Regions from separate parts of the Homo sapiens genome. Here regions 1, 3 and 4 are each linked to region 2. Evidence: fine-mapped expression QTL. A gene starts in region 2. Each other region holds a variant in brackets. All regions are shown on one strand. Distances are between the middles of the regions. Region 1 overlaps RNF126 (ring finger protein 126). Region 2 holds the start of HCN2 (hyperpolarization activated cyclic nucleotide gated potassium and sodium channel 2). Region 3 overlaps HCN2 (hyperpolarization activated cyclic nucleotide gated potassium and sodium channel 2). Region 4 overlaps HCN2 (hyperpolarization activated cyclic nucleotide gated potassium and sodium channel 2).

The links. PIP is the estimated chance that this variant, and not a neighbour inherited with it, causes the effect.
Region 1: its variant is fine-mapped to the expression of HCN2 in whole blood (INTERVAL, PIP above 0.99).
Region 3: its variant is fine-mapped to the expression of HCN2 in esophagus mucosa (GTEx, PIP above 0.99).
Region 4: its variant is fine-mapped to the expression of HCN2 in whole blood (TOPMed, PIP above 0.99). The same link has a PIP of 0.9 or more in T cells.

What each region holds. Positions count from the first base shown.
Region 1 is chr19:648,750-654,711 of GRCh38, forward strand. RNF126 (ring finger protein 126) reads right to left here. Exons shown (of 9, transcript NM_194460.3): 2 at 4,077-4,135; 3 at 3,484-3,547; 4 at 2,862-3,106; 5 at 1,485-1,547; 6 at 930-999; 7 at 133-226. Among named protein-coding and RNA genes, the nearest start is that of RNF126, 11 kb to the right of the region's middle. The variant C/T (reference allele first, on the strand shown) is at 3,103.
Region 2 is chr19:588,258-593,231 of GRCh38, forward strand. HCN2 (hyperpolarization activated cyclic nucleotide gated potassium and sodium channel 2) reads left to right here and starts at 1,624. Exons shown (of 8, transcript NM_001194.4): 1 at 1,624-2,320. The coding sequence starts at 1,689. It also overlaps the pseudogene LOC100420586. RefSeq lists an enhancer at 1-393.
Region 3 is chr19:614,234-619,262 of GRCh38, forward strand. It overlaps HCN2 (hyperpolarization activated cyclic nucleotide gated potassium and sodium channel 2), which reads left to right. Exons shown (of 8, transcript NM_001194.4): 8 at 1,562-2,926. The coding sequence ends at 2,241. POLRMT (RNA polymerase mitochondrial) reads right to left here. Exons shown (of 21, transcript NM_005035.4): 14 at 4,977-5,029; 15 at 4,764-4,877; 16 at 4,472-4,527; 17 at 4,255-4,353; 18 at 3,544-3,616; 19 at 3,337-3,422; 20 at 3,186-3,247; 21 at 2,988-3,090. The coding sequence ends at 3,041. Among named protein-coding and RNA genes, the nearest start is that of POLRMT, 17 kb to the right of the region's middle. The variant G/A (reference allele first, on the strand shown) is at 3,381.
Region 4 is chr19:607,384-613,345 of GRCh38, forward strand. It overlaps HCN2 (hyperpolarization activated cyclic nucleotide gated potassium and sodium channel 2), which reads left to right. Exons shown (of 8, transcript NM_001194.4): 4 at 581-799; 5 at 2,876-3,022; 6 at 5,865-5,962. LOC107987266 (a long non-coding RNA gene) reads right to left here. Exons shown (of 2, transcript XR_001753828.2): 1 at 5,496-5,962; 2 at 2,557-3,771. Among named protein-coding and RNA genes, the nearest start is that of HCN2, 20 kb to the left of the region's middle. RefSeq lists an enhancer at 3,527-3,836 and a silencer at 5,956-5,962. The variant A/G (reference allele first, on the strand shown) is at 3,346.

The DNA.
Region 1 (5,962 bases), 61 kb after region 2:
CCTGAGGTCAGGAGTTCGAGACCTGCCTGACCAACATGGTGAAACCCTGTCTCTACTGAAAATACAAGTATGAGCCAGGCGTGGCGGCGGGTGCCTGTAATTCCCACTACTCGGGAGGCTGAGCTCTCATACCTACGTGCTCCTCAGTGACGGGGACGGTGGGGAGGGCCTGGATTTTCTCTTTATCTGCCGGTGGGGGGCCTGTGTTTTCAAACTGATTGAGGAGCTGAAAGACAAGAGGCGAGAGTGCCGGGAGCTCCTCGGGGGCCCGGCCCGGGGCTCTGAAACGCGAGGCTGCAGGACCTGCAAAAGCACCGAGGCCGCGTTTGTCCTGGGCCCTGGGCCCCTTGGAGCCCGCCCGGGGTCGGAGATCACTGTGGAGCCCACGCGGCCCCCCCGCTCCTGGGTCCCCTGACGGTGGAATGGGGGAATGGGCGGAGGCCCGCGCTCCTGGGTCCCTGACAGCGGAATGGGGGGGGGGGCCGCGCTCCTGAGTGCCCTGACGGCGGAATGGGGGGGCCGTGCTCCGGCTGGTGGGCTACTGTGAGGGTCGGGTCCTGCCAGTGACAAAATGCTCCAAGGGCTCCTCAGCAAGGCTGAGACGGGTGGCACTTGGAAGCAGGTCAGGGCGCGACCTCTCGGGAAGAGGGACCGCGTGGCCTCCTGACCATGTGACTGTGGGCGAGTCCTCCCCGCGGTTTTGCTACAACGTTCCGCGTGAACACAGGAGAACCCCCAAAGTTGCCAAGACTCAGAAATGGCAGGAGGAAGGCCGGAGCTGCCCCCTGTGCCCGCCAGAGCGTGGAGGCTGTGCCCGCATCCCCTTTGACCTTTGTGGGGCTTCGTGGGTCCAGGCAGTGGGGCAGCTCCCAGGGGTGGGCAGCCCAGCCCTCCCCCAGCAGGCACTCTGGGCCGTGGCCACGCTGTACCTGTGTGATGATGGCATCCAGGCCGTTGGCCCCCCAGGCGTAGTCCATAGGGTTTGAGTGCAGGACTCCCCTGGAGGTGGAAGGTGGGGTTCAAGTGGCTGACGGGCAGCTGGGGCAGGTGCGTCTATCCACCCCACTCACCAGGGGCCCAGGCTGGGGATGGGGACAGGCACCCCCTCCTACTCACCAGGGACCCTGGCTGGGGATGGGGACAGGCACCCCCACCCACTCACCAGGGGCCCAGGCTGGGGATGGGAACAGGCACCCCCTCCTACTCACCAGGGACCCTGGCTGGGGATGGGGACAGGCACCCCCACCCACTCACCAGGGGCCCAGGCTGGGGATGGGGACAGGCACCCCCACCCACTCACCAGGGGCCCAGGCTGGGGATGGGGACAGGCACCCCCTCCTACTCACCAGGGGCCCAGGCTGGGGATGGGGACAGGCACCCCCTCCTACTCACCAGGGACCCTGGCTGGGGATGGGGACAGGCACCCCCACCCACTCACCAGGGACCCAGGCTGGGGATGGGGACAGGCACCCCCACCCACTCACCAGGGGCCCAGGCTGGGGATGGTGGCGGGCGTGATGATGCCGTTGACGAGCTGCTGGATGATCCTGGAAAAGAGAGCGCCAGTCACGGGGTGAGGCCGCCCCACGCACAGGAGAGGCGCCAGGCCTGCCAGGTCCGTGGTGAGCACCAAGGGCAGGGCCAGCATCAGCTTCTAGATTAGCTTCTATTTATTTATTTTACTATGAGCCAGGGTCTCACTCTAATGCCGAGGCAGGAGAGAAGCAGCTTGATCTTGGTTCACTGCAGCCCCAACCTGCTGGGCTTAAGCGATCCTCCCGCCTCAGCCTCCCAAGTAGCTGGGACCACAGAAGAGGTCCACCACTCTCGGCTACTTTTTTTTTTTTTTTTTTTTTTTTTGAGACAGAGTTTCACTCTTGTTGCCCAGGCTGGAGTGCAATGGCACGACCTCGGCTGACTGCAACCTCTGCCTCCCGGGTTCAAGTGATTCTCCTGCCTCAGCCTCCTGAGTAGCTGGGATTACAGGCGCCCACCGCCATGCCTGGCTAATTTTTGTATTCTTAGTAGAGACGGAGTTTCATCATATTGGTCAGGCTGGTCTCAAACTCCTGACCTCAGTGATCTGCCCGCCTCGGCCTCCCAAAGTGCTAGGATTACAGGTGTGAGCCACCTCACCCAGCCTCAGCTACTTTTTAAAAATTAGAGATGGGGCCTCCCTACATTGCTCAGGCTGGTCTTAAACTCCTGTCCTCAAGAGATCCTCCCTCTTTGACCTCCCAGAGAACTGCAAATACAGCACTGAGCCACCGTGCCTGGCAAAATTAGCCACTTTTAAAGATGACATTTCCAGCAGGTGAGACACACAACCATAAAAGCATCAACCGCCAGGAGTAGGGCCCTGCGACGGCTCCCCCAGGCTCTGTTCCACCAGGAGCAGGGCCCAGCGACGGCTCCCCCAGGCTCTGTTCCACCAGGAATGGGGCCCTGCGACGGCTCCCCCAGGCTCCGTTCCACCAGGAGTGGGGCCCTGCGACGGCTCCCCCAGGCTCCGTTCCACCAGGAGTGGGGCCCTGCGACGGCTCCCCCAGGCTCTGTTCTGGGCCCAAGGCCTGGACAGCGTTTGACGACACGCGTGTGGACAGCAGTCTCCAGAGCACGTGGGCCTGGCAGGCACACGGTGCCCCACTCTGTGGTCAACCCACACACCCTGAACCGGCATACTTCTGTCTCCGAAGGGCCGTGTGGGGAGTCACAGGGGGCTGGAGGGCCTGGCCGGGCGGCCTCTCCAGAGAGCCTATGGATGATGCCACGTTTCCGTGGAACCCGTGCTGGATTCTAAGCGCCAGAACTTCCGACCTCAAGGCGTGGGGCCCTCGCGGCCACCCCCGGGGCCCCCTCACCCTTCCAGCGTGGGGACGCCTTCGTGCCGGCCGGTGGCCCGCCGCGTGGTGAGGCGGGCGCGGGGCTGTCGGGCGCCGTACCGGTGCCGGGACGGATGGTCTCTCTCCCGCCGGCTCTCAGGGTCCCTGCCGTCGTCAGCCTGCGCCCCAGGAGGGAACGTGGGGATCTCGAAGCTGTCATCGAAGATGCCGAAAGCAAACTGTCCGTAGCCCTGCGGCAGCGTGAACAGGTGCTGGTCCA[C/T]GTGCTGGGGAGAGGAGGGGGGCGTGACCTCGGGGGCTCAGGCCCGTGCAGTCTGCTGGGGGCGCTAGGGCACAAAGACAAAGGAGAAAGCAAGACGGGCCCTGCTGGGTGCCGGGTGGGAGGGAGACGCAGACAGGGAGGCAGGAATTGGGCAGAGCCTGCCCCGCTGGTGTGAGATGCCTCGGTGGAAGTTTCGCTTTCATCCAAGAAACCAACCAAGCAGCGTGGGCCGCCCCAATCCCTGGCCCGGGCCCCTGGAGGGAAAAATTTCCTCCGCCGTGCGGGCAGGGAGAGCCGGGGAGGCGAGGTGGGGACAGGCTGGCGCTCGGGGCCCCGAGCAAGGCTGACACGATCGGGAAGCACGAGGGGCGGGCGACTCACCTCCAACGGTGGCCGGCTCTGGTCTGTGGGAGCTGTGGAGGGGGCAGAACCATTTTCTGTGCTCCTGGGGAGAGAGTGCAGGTCAGCAGTGCCGGCTACCCTGTGCCCCCATGCGCCAGGCGCTCCCTCCCCTCAAAAGCCTATGTTGGGAGAGCAGGAATTGTCCTTGGCACTGCTTCCCACCCGCCACCGCCCCAGCATTTGGTGCCGTAACCCGCTGCTGCTTCCCTCGCCAGTAAACCACGGGTTTCTCGATAAACCGGTGCAGACCCCAACAGCCTCCTAAGCGTGAGAATGTGGGTAGGGCCCCCGTGGCCCCTTCCCCGGAGGGCCTGGGTCACCAGATTAGCCGCCGAGGCTGAGGGAGGTGAGCGGCTGCACAGGTTGCCGGCACTCCCCTCTGGCCCCGGCCCGGCCATCACAGAAGAGAACGGCACGCTGCTGTCTGCACAGAGAAAAGTGCTCCCGGAGCCACAGACACCAGGGCCTGACGGCCCCACACTCGGCGGGGCGGACGCCAGCACAGCCCACACCCCTACAACAGCTGAGGCCCGGCTGGCTCTTCCAGCCTCTTCAACAGGGGGCTGCATTACCTGGTCTCTTCCGGAAGCTCCTCGATAAAACCAGACTCGCATCTTGGACAGATATAATCCTGCAGGAGAGAACAGGAGGCCGGGTCACGGTGACGCCGGCATCACCTGCAAACCCCCCCAAGTGTGAGGACAGAGGGGCTCCGGACCCAGCGGTCTCTGGCTGGCCAGGCACACGCAGGCCAGGGTGGCTCCCAACCCGTGGGTCCTGGAGGGCGGCCGAGGGGACCTGGCCTCTGCCAGCCACCCGCTGACCCTTTGGTGGCTCCCGGCGATCTGAGCCCCTCCGACCTGGCCCCACCGTGACGGGCGTCACCAGCGTCATCAGCGCCTTGGCTGAGCCCCTCCGACCTGCCCCACCGTGACGGGCGTCACCAGTGCCTGGGCACCTCCTCACACAGGTGGCACCACTCGGAGGGGTGCCCCAATACCCCACAGTGGCATTTCCAGGACGCTCTGGCAGCCCCGCACACAGCCCGTTCCCCTGGCTCGGGGGAGGCCACGTCCACGCTGGCCACACCCCTGCAAGACCCCATCCCCAGGTCCCCCTAGAGCCAAGGACAACACAAGGCCAACATGGTGATGTCCCAGAGGAGACGTGAGGACCCTGCCCAGGGACAGCCGTGGGTGAGTCCCAAAACCACGTTCACAGTTCCCCAGCACCAGCCTCAAGCCACAGCTGTGCCGAGCAGGACGGATGCCATCCCCTGTGGATCTCACACTGCAACGGGATCCCCAGGGCTGAAGGGCCTGCTGGAGACACTGGCTCACAGGGCGGACTCCTCATGGATGGCTGGGCCCCTGGTGATGGCGGAGCGTGCCGAGCATTCGTGGGGCCTGGGCTGAAACGTGCATGGTGCCTCCCGGCCTCACCAGGGGCTGGGCAGATGCCGACACACACTTCCCGCACAGCCTGCAGAACTGGAAACTGGAAGCTAAATCAACTGCTCTCTATGAACGACCCAGTCTCAAGTGCTCCATCGCAGCAACGTGAAAATGGCCTCACACGGCACGTGTCATCACGCCAGGGGCTCACATGGGGGTCCCAAGACCACCCCCAGGTAACACAGACAAAAACAGGAGACAAGGCTCCCACCGTGCATGGGGGAGTGCTGTGAGGGGAGCCAAGGTCGACCCCAGGCTCTGGGGATGCAGGTTGCACCGGGGCTGTTCAGTCTTCGCAGGGGCAGGGGCTGGGACCTCTCCAGCAAGCAAGATCCCGGCCTCACCCACTGACTCTGGGGAGAAGCGGGGGTCTGGCGTGCAGTGCCCAAGGGGAGGGCCGACAGCTGGGCCCCCGCCCACACCACGCCGTGCCTGCCTCACCTGCTCCTGCCACTGAAGCACAGGCTGGGTGGGGAGGGACTAAGGCCAGGGTGAGCAAACGATGCCAGATGCACATGAACCCACCGTGAGGGGAGAGTGAAGAGGCACCATCTACAATATAGAAAAAGTGCGGCCCGGCTCCTGGTGAGGCCGGGAGGCACCACATGCGTTTCAGCCCACGCCCCACGAATTCTCGGCACGCTCCGCCATCACCGGGGGCGCGGTGGCTCAGGCCTGTAATCCTGGCACTTCGGGAGGCCGAGGCGGGCGGATCATCTGAGATCAGGAGTTGGAGACCAGCCTGGCCAACATGGTGAAACTCTGTCTCTACTAAAAATACAAAAATTAGCCGGGTGTGGTGGCGGGCGCCTGTAATCCCAGCTACTTGGGAGGCTGAGGCAGGAGAATTGCTTGAGCCCGGGAGGCGGAGGTTGCAGTGAGCTGAGATTGTGCCATTGCACTGCAGCCTGGGCGAGGGAGCAAGACTCCGTCTCAAAAAAAAAAAAAAAAAAAAAAAAAAAAAAAAAAAAAGTGCTGGCCGGGCGCGGTGTCTCATACCTGTA
Region 2 (4,974 bases):
TGCCGGCGCCTGCAGGAGGCGTCTTTCTGCTTCTCCCACTGCCAGGCATGGGCGGTTCTCGTGCCGTGCGGGTCCCGCCTCCTCCCTGCTCCCAGCCGCGAGCCCTGGGGCTCTGGCGACCTGCCCGGCCTGACATCTTCCCAGGGTGAACATAAAAGAACCCCCTTCAGCTGGAGCACGCATCTGCCTCGGGGCGGGCCACAGCCTGGCACTGCCAACTGTGCCGCCCGCCCGGCCTCTCCCGCACCACCTTGGGACAAACAGCTGTCCTGCCCGCCTATGCGGAGGTGGCCGGCGGGGCCGGCGTGGGGGCGCAGGGATCCCCAGGGTGTGGGGCAGCCAGGCCGAGGCGAGAGACACGGTCGGGCTCAGCCCATCCACTGTCAGCCGGGCACATGCTGGCCCTCCCTCAAGTACCACTGAGTGCCTCCTGGGTGTAGGAAGAGGGCCATCTCTGCCCCGGTGGCCTCGAGGTGCAGATGGGTGGGGGGCACCCGGCACACGGGACATCGTGGCTGAGAGGACGTCAGGCCAGGTGCCAGGAGGGTCCCAGGAGGGCCTCCTGCCTCCAGGTGGGGATGTTCAGCCTCCACTTCTTCGAGTGTGACTGTCTGTCTCCTCTCTCTCACTTGCCAGCTTCCTCACCTGCCCCCTCCCGGCTGTCTGGTGGGCTGGGTGGCTAGGGACAGAGGCCTCATGTCACCTGGCACCAAGCAGCACCCACGCCCAGCCGGCTTCGGCCCAGAAGCAGAGCCTTGGGAAGCACCTGTCTCAGAGCTGGGGACTGGAGGCACTGGGGGCACAGCTGCACCCGGAGTCCGAGGGGTCGGGGAAAGGAGGCAACCCCGGGGCAGGGGGCTCTGGTACCCGTGCGAAGGCGCTAGTGGGCTTTGGGTCTCCCTGTGACCCCAATCTAAAGCCCACCAGACCTAGAGGAGACCCCCGCCGCACGGCTCCCCAGGGCACTGTTTGAGGGGTGGGTGGGAACCCCACACCCTCGGGTGGCTTTTCCAGTTTTCCTTGTCTGGCTGGGCTTGGCCTCAGTTTCCTCAAATGCAGACCAGGGAGAGGAGTGCCTGAGTCTCCCAGAACGGCGCCCAAGCCGGCCTGCCCCTCCCCACGCACTCAAGGGTCTCTGTCCAGGGCCCACAGGCGACCCAGCAAGGGCTCCTGTGACCTTTAGAAACACCCTTTCGTCGTGGAAGTCTTCAAACCTCACAGAAAGCAAGGAGGCGCTGGCCGTGGCGGCCTCTCCCGTCTCCCAGGCCCGCGTCCACCCTCCCCGCGCCGGTGCCCTCCGGACAGAGGTGGAAGCCGCGGCGCAGGAGAGGCGGCTCCGGCCGGGCAGCGGGGCCCGGTGACCTTGGGCGCGTCCTTACACGTCGCGGGCCTCAGTTTCCCCTCCTGGGGAGAGGCCCGCGCGGGGCTCCGAGGCCTCGGGCCGCGTGACCTTGGGGCGCCCCCGACCCCGCGGCCCGAGTTTCCCGGCGCCGAGCGGAGGCGGCGCGCGGGGAGGGGGCGCAGCCGAGGCGGGTCTCCCGCCCCCGCCCCTCCCCCGCCCCTCCCCCGCCGCGAGGCTCCGCCCCCCGCGGCTCCGCCCCGCCCCGCCCCCGCCTCCCCCCTCCCTCGGGCTCCGGCCGGCGGCGGCGGCGGCGGCTCCGCTCCGCACTGCCCGGCGCCGCCTCGCCATGGACGCGCGCGGGGGCGGCGGGCGGCCCGGGGAGAGCCCGGGCGCGACCCCCGCGCCGGGGCCGCCGCCGCCGCCGCCGCCCGCGCCCCCCCAACAGCAGCCGCCGCCGCCGCCGCCGCCCGCGCCCCCCCCGGGCCCCGGGCCCGCGCCCCCCCAGCACCCGCCCCGGGCCGAGGCGTTGCCCCCGGAGGCGGCGGATGAGGGCGGCCCGCGGGGCCGGCTCCGCAGCCGCGACAGCTCGTGCGGCCGCCCCGGCACCCCGGGCGCGGCGAGCACGGCCAAGGGCAGCCCGAACGGCGAGTGCGGGCGCGGCGAGCCGCAGTGCAGCCCCGCGGGGCCCGAGGGCCCGGCGCGGGGGCCCAAGGTGTCGTTCTCGTGCCGCGGGGCGGCCTCGGGGCCCGCGCCGGGGCCGGGGCCGGCGGAGGAGGCGGGCAGCGAGGAGGCGGGCCCGGCGGGGGAGCCGCGCGGCAGCCAGGCCAGCTTCATGCAGCGCCAGTTCGGCGCGCTCCTGCAGCCGGGCGTCAACAAGTTCTCGCTGCGGATGTTCGGCAGCCAGAAGGCCGTGGAGCGCGAGCAGGAGCGCGTCAAGTCGGCGGGGGCCTGGATCATCCACCCGTACAGCGACTTCAGGTACCGCCTCCGGGAGGGCCGGTCGGCGCGAGGGGGCCCGGGGAGCCGGGCGCGCGGGGAGCCGTCCTTGGAGCGCCTGGGGAGGGCGGGGCGGCGCGCCGGGCCGGTGACCTCGGGGCTCCTCGGTGACCTCGGGCGTGTCCGGGACCCGCCCCGGAGTGACCCCGGCGCGCGAGGCTCCGCCTCTGGGGGGGCTCCCCGGGTGACCGCGGAGCGCCCCCCTCCCACGCACCCCGACATCCTCCGCCCTGCGGCGCGGCGGGTGGGGTGGGCCGCAGGGCCAGGGTCTGAGCGCAGAGGGGCAGAGAGGACGAATAGAGGGGAACGTGGGCCCCAGAGAGGCGGCGGAGCGGGAGGGAGGAGGAACGAAGGGCGCCCGGGAAGGACGCGCCCCAGGGAGGCCGGGGGAGAGGGGGTTAAGCGGCTCCCACGGCGTCCACCCGCGCCCCGCCTGCGAGGAGGCGCGCCCGGGGCCGCGGGCCTGGAAAGCGTGCGGGTCCCCAGGCTGTGTCCCCGGGAGCCGCTCCACCCGAGCCGCGGGCGGTGCGCGCATGCGGCGGTGGGTGTGTAGACGCCGCTGTGGATCCAGCCGGCTAATGCGTGGAAGGCTCGGAGCAGGGCCGGCGCGGGGCCACCGCCACTGATGTTTGCGGTCGTGGTTCCTGGGCTGTGCGTGCTGTGGCCGGAGAGCGAGACCGGCGCGTGTCCCCGTGGGCTGTGTGTGAACAGGGGCCCGTGACCGCGGCGGGGTTCCCGGGGCGCGAGCCTGTGGCCGGAGAGGTGTGTCTCCAGGAGTGTGTTTGCGTGGTGGTCGCGGGCGTGTGCGCCTCCGGTGGGTTTATTTTGGTGGGACGTGTGGTTTGTGTGTGTTGGGACCAGGTGGCGGGCGTGCGCGTGTACGCCCGGGGCCGGTGTGCACCGGTGGGCAGTAGTGTGAGCCGCAGGCAGGTCTCACACACGCGACCATGGAGGGATGCGTGTGTGTTTGTGTATCCACGAGTGGGGTGTGAGGTGGGGTGTGGAGGGTGCAGGTGGAGGGTGTAGGTGGGGCCCGCCGGGCTAGCGAGGCCGGGCGCGCGGGACGGGCGCGGTTTCAGCACCACGGACAGCGCGCCGGACCTGGGAAGCCTGCGGTTTTCCCGCCTGTCTCTCCTCCTCCAGGCCTGGGCGCCCCAGGACAGCCCCCACGGACCCTGGACCCCCGGAACTGGGCAGGGAGGCTGTGGGGTTCTCTCTTCCCCTGGATTCTCTGCACCCCTAGTGCTTGACTGGAGAAACTGAGGCCTGGGGCACATGCGTCCTGGACAGAGCCTGGAGGAAGGCCCTGGAATCCTCCTCCCACCCCAGGCCTTCCTGAGAGGTGAATACAGCTTTGACCAGAAGCCTGGATTTCGAGACAGGCCAGGGGTGGGAGGAGCCCCGAAATCCCCAGAGGGGCTGTGTCCGGCCCCTCCCACCCTGCCTCTGTGCCCCACCGGGAGAGCTTGGTCAGCATCTGGGCTCTGGCCTGCGAAATGTGGACAGTGAGCGGGAAGGACTGGACTTCCAGGGCTGCTGGTCGGCCTGGCCCCACTTCCAGTCGGGCAGTGGCACCCCCTGACCGGAGAGGGACGCGGTGGAGAGGGAGCTGTAGAACGTGCCCACTCCCCTCCGTCCCCTCCAGCATGACCTTCGACAGAGATGGGTGCACCGCAGCGTGGGGGCTGGCAGGTGGAGGCCCACACCAGCCACTCCCTCCCCTGGGCAGCTCCAGCGACCCCCTGGCTGCAGAGGGGCGGTCGGTGGCCTGGGGGGCAGGTGGGCAGATGGCTGATCCCGGGGCTTGGGGGGAAGGCCGGTGGTAGGAGTGAAGCCCTCTCATCCTTCCACCCTCCTTGGGCGTGGTCGCCTGGAGGCCTGGGCAGGCTGTGGCCCCGCTCTGTGCTCTGAGGCATAGAGGGCTCAGAGGCCCCTGTGTGGACCAAGTGCAGCCCCACCCCGGCAGATGAGTGTTGAAGTGGAACTGAGCAGGCAGGGAATGGGGTTAGCGGGGCCTGTCTTCGGGACTAGGGGAGTCACGGCAGTCAGATTTTAAAAAAGGATTTCGATGTTGCCAAGCTGGGTGCACGGGGCCCCTAGGACCCTCCCCAGGCTTGGGACCTGTGCCAGTGTGGAATCAGTGTGGAAAAAGACCCCCAAGAATATCTCAAAAGCTCCCTAAGCAGGCGGCCGGACCCTGCTGTGGAGGGTGTTTTGGGGCAGCCCACAGCAAGCGAAGGGGCCTCTACGTTTGCAGCTGACTCAGGAGCCTGGCCCCAACTGGCTTCGGGCCCAAGGCCTCCTGTGCCTGGCTGGGTGTCTTGGGTCCTCGCTGGGCCCCTCTGCCTCAGTTTCCCCAATTGCACGGTGGGGATGGTATGAGGGAGAAGGATGGGGTCTTTCACAGCCTTGCCAGTGTCTCAGCCTCACGTCTCACACTCTCTTCACCTCCCCTTCCTGCTGAGAGAGTGCTGTGCTCCTTGCCCAGCCTGTGCCCCCCAGGCACGCCCTCACCCCGGTTCTTCCTCGCTGCCCAGCTGTCTCCGCCACGCCCAAGTCCACCCTGCTCCCGTGCTCGGAAGTGGCCTCTTTCACGCCCCACGTCCCAGTCCCAGTATACAGCAGGTGCCACATAT
Region 3 (5,029 bases), 26 kb after region 2:
CCTTTGGGTCTAGAGGCTGATTTTCTGACCTATTGTCCTACTTCAGCCAGAGGCAGCCTGTTTCCCAAGGGAGGGAATGCACAGGGTGTTTGCGGTTGTGCCGAATGCTCGGTGAGCACCTGCTGTGTGCTGGGGGTGCAGGGGACAGACCCGGGGGCCCACTCAGACTCCCAGGGAGGCTTATGGACTGGTGATGAAATCACACACGACTGGGCTGTGTGCCAGCAGGGCAGGTGGGGCCGGTGGGCTTCCCTGAGTTGGGAATGCAGAGTGGAGACCAGGGTAAGGGATGCCATGTGGAAACGGGGAGGAAGATGTGTTCGTGGAGTGGACACAGCACATCCCAAGGCCCTGAGGTGGAAAAGAGGCCTAGAGTCCAGAGAGCCAGGGAGGCCTGGAGGAGGTTGGGGAAGAAGGGGAGGCCAGACACACAGGGCCCAGTGGGCGGCAGGGAGAGTTTAGACTAAATCAGGAGCATCAGGGAGCCATGGAGGGTTCTAGGTGGGCGGAGGACCTGGTCAGATTGTATCCGCCAAGGCGGGCCGTGTCCAGGAGGGAGACGGTGACCTGGCCTCTCAGGGGGGCAGTCTCTGGGGCAGGGAGGGGCAGAGCCCTGATGACTGGATGTAGGCGCCAGAGAGATGGCGGCTCATGCTGCTGTTCGTGGGAATGGGAATGAAGACCATGGCTGAAACGCAGGACAGGTGCGACGGAGTGGTGTCAGGGAGCTCCCTGGTGTACAGTAGGAAGCTCTCCACAACTTGCTCTATACAGTGAGTATGCAACCCGTTCCTGAGTATCAGGTGCTTAGGTTATAACTTCTGTATACAGCAGGTGCTCAGCACAGGCTGTGTACAGGCAGGTGTTTTCGGTATGCCTGTGGCACACTGGAGGCAGTCATTACATAATCAGCGTATACAGGTGGTACACATGCATACTTGGTGCACAGTGATACCTGCTCCATGTACACAGCAGGCATTAAATACCTGTTTACTGCCAGGCGCGGTGGCTCACGCCTGTAGTCCCAGCACTTTCGGAGGCCAAGGTGGGTGGATCACGAGGTCAGGAGATTGAGACCATCCTGGCTAACATGGTGAAACCCCGTCTCTACTAAAAAAAAAATACAAAAAATTAGCCGGGTGTGGTGGCGGGCGCCTGTAGTCCCAGCTACTCGGGAGGATGAGGCAGGAGAATGGTGTGAACCCGGGAGGTGGACCTTGCAGTGGGCCGAGATCGCGCCACTGCACTCCAGCCCGGGCGACAGAGCAAGACTCCGTCTCAGAAACAAAGCAAAACAAAAGCCCTGCTTTCTGTATGCAGGTGCTTCATGCATGCTGGCTGTGCATAGCAGGTGCTCAGCCTGTATATGGCAGGTACTCAATATCCATACTATAGGCCAGAGATGCTACATATGTGCTTATTGTATACAGTAGGTGGTAAATGCATGCTTGCTCTACACGGCAAGCACTGTGTGCGCACCCGCGGTGCAGAGTAGGTGCTCGGTGCCCGCTGTACGCAGCAGGCGCTCCCTGTGCACACGCTAACGCCCCCTCTCCCGCAGGCAAGAAGAATTCCATCCTCCTGCACAAGGTGCAGCATGACCTCAACTCGGGCGTATTCAACAACCAGGAGAACGCCATCATCCAGGAGATCGTCAAGTACGACCGCGAGATGGTGCAGCAGGCCGAGCTGGGTCAGCGCGTGGGCCTCTTCCCGCCGCCGCCGCCGCCGCCGCAGGTCACCTCGGCCATCGCCACGCTGCAGCAGGCGGCGGCCATGAGCTTCTGCCCGCAGGTGGCGCGGCCGCTCGTGGGGCCGCTGGCGCTCGGCTCGCCGCGCCTCGTGCGCCGCCCGCCCCCGGGGCCCGCACCTGCCGCCGCCTCACCCGGGCCCCCGCCCCCCGCCAGCCCCCCGGGCGCGCCCGCCAGCCCCCGGGCACCGCGGACCTCGCCCTACGGCGGCCTGCCCGCCGCCCCCCTTGCTGGGCCCGCCCTGCCCGCGCGCCGCCTGAGCCGCGCGTCGCGCCCACTGTCCGCCTCGCAGCCCTCGCTGCCTCACGGCGCCCCCGGCCCCGCGGCCTCCACACGCCCGGCCAGCAGCTCCACACCGCGCTTGGGGCCCACGCCCGCTGCCCGGGCCGCCGCGCCCAGCCCGGACCGCAGGGACTCGGCCTCACCCGGCGCCGCCGGCGGCCTGGACCCCCAGGACTCCGCGCGCTCGCGCCTCTCGTCCAACTTGTGACCCTCGCCGACCGCCCCGCGGGCCCAGGCGGGCCGGGGGCGGGGCCGTCATCCAGACCAAAGCCATGCCATTGCGCTGCCCCGGCCGCCAGTCCGCCCAGAAGCCATAGACGAGACGTAGGTAGCCGTAGTTGGACGGACGGGCAGGGCCGGCGGGGCAGCCCCCTCCGCGCCCCCGGCCGTCCCCCCTCATCGCCCCGCGCCCACCCCCATCGCCCCTGCCCCCGGCGGCGGCCTCGCGTGCGAGGGGGCTCCCTTCACCTCGGTGCCTCAGTTCCCCCAGCTGTAAGACAGGGACGGGGCGGCCCAGTGGCTGAGAGGAGCCGGCTGTGGAGCCCCGCCCGCCCCCCACCCTCTAGGTGGCCCCCGTCCGAGGAGGATCGTTTTCTAAGTGCAATACTTGGCCCGCCGGCTTCCCGCTGCCCCCATCGCGCTCACGCAATAACCGGCCCGGCCCCCGTCCGCGCGCGTCCCCCGGTGACCTCGGGGAGCAGCACCCCGCCTCCCTCCAGCACTGGCACCGAGAGGCAGGCCTGGCTGCGCAGGGCGCGGGGGGGAGGCTGGGGTCCCGCCGCCGTGATGAATGTACTGACGAGCCGAGGCAGCAGTGCCCCCACCGTGGCCCCCCACGCCCCATTAACCCCCACACCCCCATTCCGCGCAATAAACGACAGCATTGGCGCCAAGCCTGGCCGCGTGTGATTGCCCGAGACCCGCAGGGCGTGCACCCTTCCTGAAGACAGTGGCTCCTGGGGGTGGCAAAAGAGCTTTATTTACACACTGACAAGGCTCACGGGGTGTCAGCTGAAGAAGTAGGTGGAACGCTTCACCTGCTCCAGGTCGAAGGCCCCTGCGGAGGAAGCAGAGCGGACGGCGTGGGTGGCGGGAAAGCCCCGCCCTGGCCCGCAGTTCGAGCCACCCTTGCGAGGCTGCCCACCCGCCTACCTGGCTTGGGCACCGCCTGCAGTGTCTCCTTCAGCTGGCTGGCCTCCAAGATCTTCTGGGGCCTGGGGTTGGAAGCAGGGTGGGGTGAGGCTGAGGCCAGGTTTTGGGGTGGGGGGGGAATCCAGGTAGTTGGGGTCAGGGAGCGCCTTACTCAGAGCAGAACCGCTTGACCAGGAATCTGGACAGGTCCTGCAG[G/A]ATGGGCTCGCTGTGCAAGCGGACAAACTGCTCCCGGCACACCTGGGCAGGAGTCAGAGGATCCCCAGGGGTGATCAGGCAGGCTCTGGGCACCACCCCTACCCAACGCCCCAGTGTGGGGGCCCCACCCATGGGTGGACTGAGGCTCAGACTACGGGGGCACCTGGTTCATGACGGAGACATCAGCTGCGTGAGTCCAGTAACAGTCGTGCACAGAGACGAAGGTCAGGCCCTTCCTGTGGCAGAGCGGAGGACTCCTGAAGGGAGGGGAGCTCACAGGGCCACCCAGTGACCAGCATCCTGGCCCTGCGCTCAGCCCCCTCCACTTGAGGTCCAGGGAAGCCCACCCTCCTGCAGGCCTCGCCCCACCCCTCGCCCCGCCCCTCCCCAAACATCCTGGGTTAGGTATCAGTACAGGGGGAGGAAATGTTCCCAGAAGCCTCCTCGCCCCACCCCTGCCGCCCCCCACGCTGCTGTGGGAGCCTCAGCTCCGAGGGCGGCTACGAGGTCCCCTCCTGCCAGGGCCACCACCCCGCATCCTGAGCATTCCCAGCTCCCGTGGCCGGTAGATTCTGCTGGAACGACCTCCACGTGCTCCAGATCTAACCACACATCGCGGTGCCAAGAAATGCCCAGCAGGAAGGGGCAGCGCCCATGCTCGGCTCTCCCTGTCGGGCCACAGGAGGGGAGCTGCCAGGACCACCTACATTCGGGGCACACAGCCTCAGGGCCTCTACACAGGCCCCACAGACACAGCAGATCCACTCTGCCCAGTCCCTGCCCCCAGCTAGACCCAGCCTTGCCAGCTGTGCCCTGCTAGCCAGAAGACGCCCCTGGGAGGCGAGCGGCACCCACGCCGTCCGGAGACGCCCACCTGTAGCAGTGCAGGGCGGTGAGCATCATGTGGGAGGAGTCCAGCGAGTGGATGAAGTTGGGCGGGAAGCCGTTCTTCTGCTTACGTGTGTTGGGCTTTCTGAGGACGGAACAGGTGCCGGTGGGGGCGGCCCAGGGACACCCCTAACTGGCCGCTGTCTCCACCGTGGCTGCTCTCCAGACCCCCGGCCAGGCCCCAGCCCGGGCCCCCCACTCACCGGCTGATGTCTCCGTTGTGGGTGTAGGTGATGCTCTGAATTCCACCTCCTATTTGCTAAAAAGGGGAAGGGGCCGGTGAGTCCCACCCGAGGCCCAGCACGGTGGTGGTACATTGAGGTGGTGGTACACTGGGGTAGTGGCACGCTAGGATGGTGGCACACTGGCGCGGGATGGGGTGGCACACTGGGGCGGTGGTACACTGGGGTGGTGGTACGCTGGGGCACTGGTACACTGGGACGCTGTTACACTGGGATGGTGGCACACTGGGGAGGGATGGGGTGGTACACTGACCTTGACCTTGGAGTCCAGGCGATAGGGCTGGATGACGGGGACGCCCAGGGGTGTGACCCACTCCACCACAGAGCCCATGTGGGAGATGAGGCGGGCACTCTCGGTCAGCCAGTGCTGTGGGACACAGGCCGTCTCAGGGCAGGGGGCTCAGGCCGGGGATCCCGTCCACTTGCTTAGGGAGTCCTGGCCGAGCGGGGACAGGACAGGACGTACCTGGATGGCCCGGGTCCCCGAGAACATCTCCTGTAGACTCTTGAAGACCTGGC
Region 4 (5,962 bases), 20 kb after region 2:
GGTGGGCATTGATGGGGTCAGGAGCTACAGAGGGAAGACCCGCCAGTGCCCCTCCCCAGAGCCTGGCACAGCTGCCCAGGCTGAGGCAGCCCATTGTCTGGCTGCCACCCGCACATGCGGTCCCATTTCCTGAACAGAGCCCCGCGGCTCCCCTTTCCCGGCCGGGTCAGCTGAGGACTTGGTGCGGCAGGACCTCCTGGGCCGGCCTGGTGTCTCTGCCCGCCCTGCCCCTCTGCTCTGGCCCAGATGCTCCCTGGAACTTTTGCCCCCTCTTGACCTCACAGATGCTCTGATCTCAGAGGCTGCAAAAGGCGGGACCCAGACTCTCGCCCTTGGGGTCTCAGTTTCCCCAGGAGTGAAGCGGGCAGGTAGAATCAGCCCTGGCCCTCCTGCCAACTCACTGTGACAAGTGTGCAAACCATGTCATCTACCTGGGTCTCCATTTCTCTTGGTTACCTCTGAACATGGGGAGCTCACCACCTCCAGTGCTTGGCAGAGGGTGGGCGCTGGGCCCTTGAGGACCGAGGGCTCCTGGGGCGTGAGCACCTGCCCACCACCGCCCCTCCTGCTGGCCTTGCAGAACCACTCGTGGAGTGAACTGTACTCCTTCGCACTCTTCAAGGCCATGAGCCACATGCTGTGCATCGGGTACGGCCGGCAGGCGCCCGAGAGCATGACGGACATCTGGCTGACCATGCTCAGCATGATTGTGGGTGCCACCTGCTACGCCATGTTCATCGGCCACGCCACTGCCCTCATCCAGTCGCTGGACTCCTCGCGGCGCCAGTACCAGGAGAAGGTCTGAGGGAGGCGGGCCCCGGCCTGGGTTCTGATGGGGGAGGCGGGCCTGGATCTGGGGTCTGAGAGAGAGTCAGGCCAGGCCCTGGGGTCTGATGGAGGGAGGCAGGCCCGGTCCTGGGGTCTGAGGCTGGAGGGAGGCCTTGCCCTGGGGTCTGAGGGCGGAGGTAGTCCTTGTCCCGGGGTCTGAGGGGAGGGGCGGGCCCGGCCCCGGGGTCTGAGGGGAGAGGCAGTCTCAGCCCTTCACTCAGCTTCAAGTGGCGCGCTCAGGGCAGAGACCGCGTGATGGGGAGCAGGGGACCCTGGGGGTCTGTGGCTGTGATTAGGAGGAGAAACGGCCGGTGGTGAGAGGTTCTCTGACCCTGTGACAGGGAGGGAGGTCCAGAGCCTGGAGATGGACGTGGGGCGGGGGCTGGGGAGGGGATGCAGGCTGGGCAGGAAGGGGTGAGTTGGGATCAGGGCAGGACAGGGTCAGTCTTTGGACATCGGGAAGCCCCCGGGCTGAAGGGGCATTGCCAGGAGGCTGGGCCCACCTGGGGGTCTCTAGGCCGGCTCAGGATGGGGCTGGGTTAGGGAAGGGCCTGGCGGGGTCTGAGAGGCCTGGGGTTGCTTCAGGACACGCCGGTGGCCGGCAGTCAGGGCCAGGCTTCAGGGAGAGCAAGGCTGCCCCACTGCTCAGATGCGGCCTCTGGCCTGCAGCGTCCATTGGGTTAATCCTAGGCTTGGCAGTGGAGGGGACACGGGGGAGCTGGGAGGGGTGGAGGGAGATTAGGATTGGCCCCATTGGCAGCCCCTGGAGTTGGGCCTCATGCACCACTCTGTGCCTCAGTTTCCCCATGTTAGGCGGCTGGCTGGTCCTGGCTGGGAGCCAAGTGCCCCCCTCTCCCGCGCCCCGAGCAGTGGCTGGCTGGGTCAGCTGGGCCCCGTGCCAGGCGCCCTGCTGTCCGGAAGCCACGGGCCTCACACCCAAACATAAGCTGGTGCCACCACCCGCCCGCCGTCACGGGTTCCGCTGAGCTCAGGGCAGCTGCGGCCGGGCGGGGCTGGGGCGGAAGTGAGGCTGGAGCTGCCGGGGGGCACCGTCCTGGGGACAGCAGGGCCTGGCACCCCCGCCCAGCACCCACGCTCCCTTCCCTGCTCAGGAGGGGCTGACCCGATGGTTTCTGGAAAGATCATCAGGGAAGGGCCAGAGCCCCCGGGAAGGGGGTCCTGTGTGTCAGGGTACCTGGGGCCTCTCCTCGTAGAGTCAGGTGCCCACCCATTCCTCAGGGATAGGGTTGCTAGATAAAGTTCAGGGCACCCGGCCTGGTGCAGTGGCTCCTGCCTGTAATCCCGGCACTCTGGGAGGCCGAGACAGGCCGATCGCCTGAGGTCAGGAGTTTAAGACCAGCCTGAGCAACACGGCGAGACCTCATCGCTACAAAAAATTAAAAAATTAGCAGGGCAGGGTGGTGCACACCTGTAATCCCCACTACTCAGGAGGCCGAGGTGGGAGGATCCCTTGAGCCCAGGAGTTCAAGACCAGCCTGTGCAATATGGCGAGACCTCATCTCCACAAAAAATAAAAGAATCAGCCAGGCGTGGTGGCGCACACCTGCAGTCCCTGCTACTCAGGAGGCTGAGGTGGGAGGATTGCTTGAGCCCATAGGCGGAGGCTGCAGTGAGCTGTGATTGCACCACTGCACTCCAGCGTGGGCCACAGAGCGAGACAGTGTCTCAGAAAAAAAAAATGGAATTTATCATTGAAACGAATTCAACTTTGATTTAAATAGAAGCATGTTTATTTGCTCTTGTTGAATCTGGCCGCCCCTGTGTGTGGCGGAGGCCTGTCTCCCCGCTGTGGGCGGGGGCTTTGTCTGACCCAGCCCTGACCCCCCACAGTACAAGCAGGTGTGAAGGCCTATCTCCCCGCCACAGGCCGGGGGGCTGTCTGACCCACAAGCAGGTGCCCGTGTGCCCGCTGCAGGCTGGGGGCGGTGTCTGACCCAGCCTCGCCTCCCCACAGTACAAGCAGGTGCCCCTGTGCCCGCTGCAGGCCGGGGGCGGTGTCTGACCCAGCCTCGCCTCCTCCCCACAGTACAAGCAGGTGGAGCAGTACATGTCCTTCCACAAGCTGCCAGCTGACTTCCGCCAGAAGATCCACGACTACTATGAGCACCGTTACCAGGGCAAGATGTTTGACGAGGACAGCATCCTGGGCGAGCTCAACGGGCCCCTGCGGGAGGTGAGGCGGGCGCCGGGCGGGCGGGAGGCAGCCTCCGGTACAGGGCCGGCCTCCCTCTCCTGGAGCCCAGGAGCCGGTCCCTGAGGGAGGCGAGGTGCCTAGGCTGCAGCAGGAGGGACTCGAGCTAGACCTGCGTACACACCCTCCCCTCCCCGCCCCGTGAGCCTCTGCACCCCCAGGACCCCCGCCACCCCCGCCTTGCTTCCCGCTGCCCCCTTAGCAGAACTGCCTGGGTCTGTGCCTGACAGGGCGGGGCAGAAGCAGGGCAGGGGGTGGGGAGGGAGGAGCCGCAGAGGCCCCGCTGAGCACCAGGTCCTGGGGGC[A/G]CTGAGGCTGATTGGAGCGGGTTTAACTCCCAGCTCTGTTCCGGTAGCCTGAGTGACCCTGGGCAAGTTTCCCAGGGTTGCGGGAACAAATACCCACAGGCTGAGTGGCTTGAACAGCGGAGATTCGGCCTCCCACCGTCCTGGAGGCCGGAAGCCCAACATCAAGGCGTGGGCCGGGCCGTGCTACCCCCCCGGAGCCCCTGGGGAGGATCCTTCCTGCCTCTTCCGGCGTCTGGGGCTCCAGGCGCCCTTGGCTTGCAGATTGATCTCCCTGATCTCTGCCTCCATCTGCTCACAGCCTTCTCCCCTGTGTGTCTCTGTCTCTTCTTGTAAATTCATCCGTCGTTGGATCAGGGCCCACCCGGTTCCTCGTGGCCTCGCCTTAACTGGGCCATGTCTGCAGAGACCCTATTTCCACATAAGGTCCTATTCACAGGAACCGGGGGTCAGGATGTCAGCCTGTCTTTCTGGGAGATGTAGTTCAACCCACAACACACATCAAACAGTTATTGAGCGCCGACTGCGTGCCCTGCCGTGTGCTTGAAGGTCCCACCCTCAGGAAGCGGGGCCTAGGGATGGCGGCCGTGATCACGCAGGCAGCAGAGAGCAGCTCTGGGAAGCGGGGAGGGACGAGGACGGGGAGGCGACATCAGCAAGGCCGTGTGTGAGCCAGGCAGGGTGTCCCCGGTGTAGCACCTGGCTCGGGCAGAGGCCCCGAGGAGGGGCTGGAGGAGCTGGGCGAGGAGGCGGGCAGGACGGGCCTGACACTAGGGACCTCGGGCCCCGGGAATGCCTCTGGGGGGGCGTGTACACCCGTTGCTCCCAGGAGGCACACACTGCGGTTCGCTTCGCCAAGAATGTTTAATTGCATTTGATGACTACGGTTTCCATTCATTCATTTGTAGAGATATAACACTCAGACCACAAAATGCATAAAATGCGGTGGCTTTTAGTATTAACAGAGTGCTGCACCCGATACCACAGCCTCACTCCAGAACATTCTCATGGGCCCAAAAGGAGACCTGGGGTGTTAGTCACCAGCTCACTCCCCGTCCCCAGCCCCTGGCAACCCACGCTACTTAGTCATTATTTAGGTGTTTAGGAGTTGCAAAGTCAAATCTTTAAACCCACATATGGCCAGGCGTGGTGGCTCACGCCTGTAATCCCAGCACTTTCAGAGGCCGAGACGGGCAGATCACCTGAGGTCAGGAGTTCGAGACCAGCCTGGCCAACATGGTGAAGCCCCGTCTCCACTAAAAATACAAAATTAGCCGGGCGTGGTGGTGGGCGCCTGTAATCCCAGCTACTCTGGAGGCTGAGACAGGAGAATCGCTTGAACCCAGGAGGCGGCGGTTGCAGTGAGCCGAGATTGTGCCACTGCACTCCAGCCTGGACAACAGAGCGAGACTCCGTCTCAAAAAAAAAAAAAGTACCAAAAAGTGCCCCAGGTCATAAGGGCACAGCTCGATAGCTGGTCCCTAAAGGGAACGTGGTGTAACCACCACACAGAACGAAGCTGGAACGTTCCTGCCGTCCTTAGAAGCTGCCTTTGCTAAGGGGAATTGCCCTGACTTCCCACACCATTGATTCATCTCCAGACCCTTGGTTTTCATGTTGATTTTTCAAAAATCACCTGATAGTCTGACCGAATGTAGCTTTCCACTGGTGTGTGTGTGTGTGTGTGTGTGTGTGTGTGTGTGAGAGAGAGATGGAGTCTCGCTCTGTCACCCGGGCTCCAGTGCAGTTGTGTGATCTTGGTTCACTGTAACCTCCTCCTCCCGGGTTCAAGAGACTCGTGCCTCAGCCTCCCGAGTAGCTGGGATTACAGGCACCCGCCACCACACCCAGCTAATTTTTTGTATTTTTAGTAGAGATGGGGTTTCACCATGTTGGCCAGGCTGGTCTCGAACTCCTGACATCAGGCGATCCACCCACCTTGGCCTCCCAGAGTGCTGGGATTACAGGTGTGAGCCACCACGCCCGGCCTTATTTTTCCCCCATTTTCTTTTTTTTTTTTTTTGAGTCAGGGTCTTGTTCTGCGCTCAGGCTGGAGGGCAGTGGTGTGGGGATCACGGCTCACTGCAGCCTCGACTTCCTGCACCACCACGCCTGGCTGTTTTTTTTTTTTCCGGTAGAGACGGGGGTCTTACCGTGTTGCCCAGGCTGGTCTAGAACTCCTGGGCTCAAGCGATCCTCCCGCCTCGGCCTCCGCAAATGCTGAGATCACACGCGTGAGCCCCCGCACCCGGCCTCCTTTCCACCGCTCTTGTCTACAGCCGCCCCTCCTGGTCCGATTGTATTGGCAGATGTCGCCAATACGGTGTCAAACGGCGAAGGGGCACTGAGCGTTTTTTCTTTCTCCCGTCCTTGGCGGCAGCAGCTCGGTTCCGGCTACGGGGCTGAGCCCGTCTCTCAGACGAGGAAACTGGGGTCCGAGAGGTGAGCCGGTCCCAGAGGCAGGGCGAGGGGGAAGCGGGAGTGGGGTCCGCAGCGGACCCAGCCCTGCCTCCCCCCTGCAGGAGATCGTCAACTTCAACTGCCGGAAGCTGGTGGCCTCCATGCCGCTGTTCGCCAACGCCGACCCCAACTTCGTCACGGCCATGCTGACCAAGCTCAA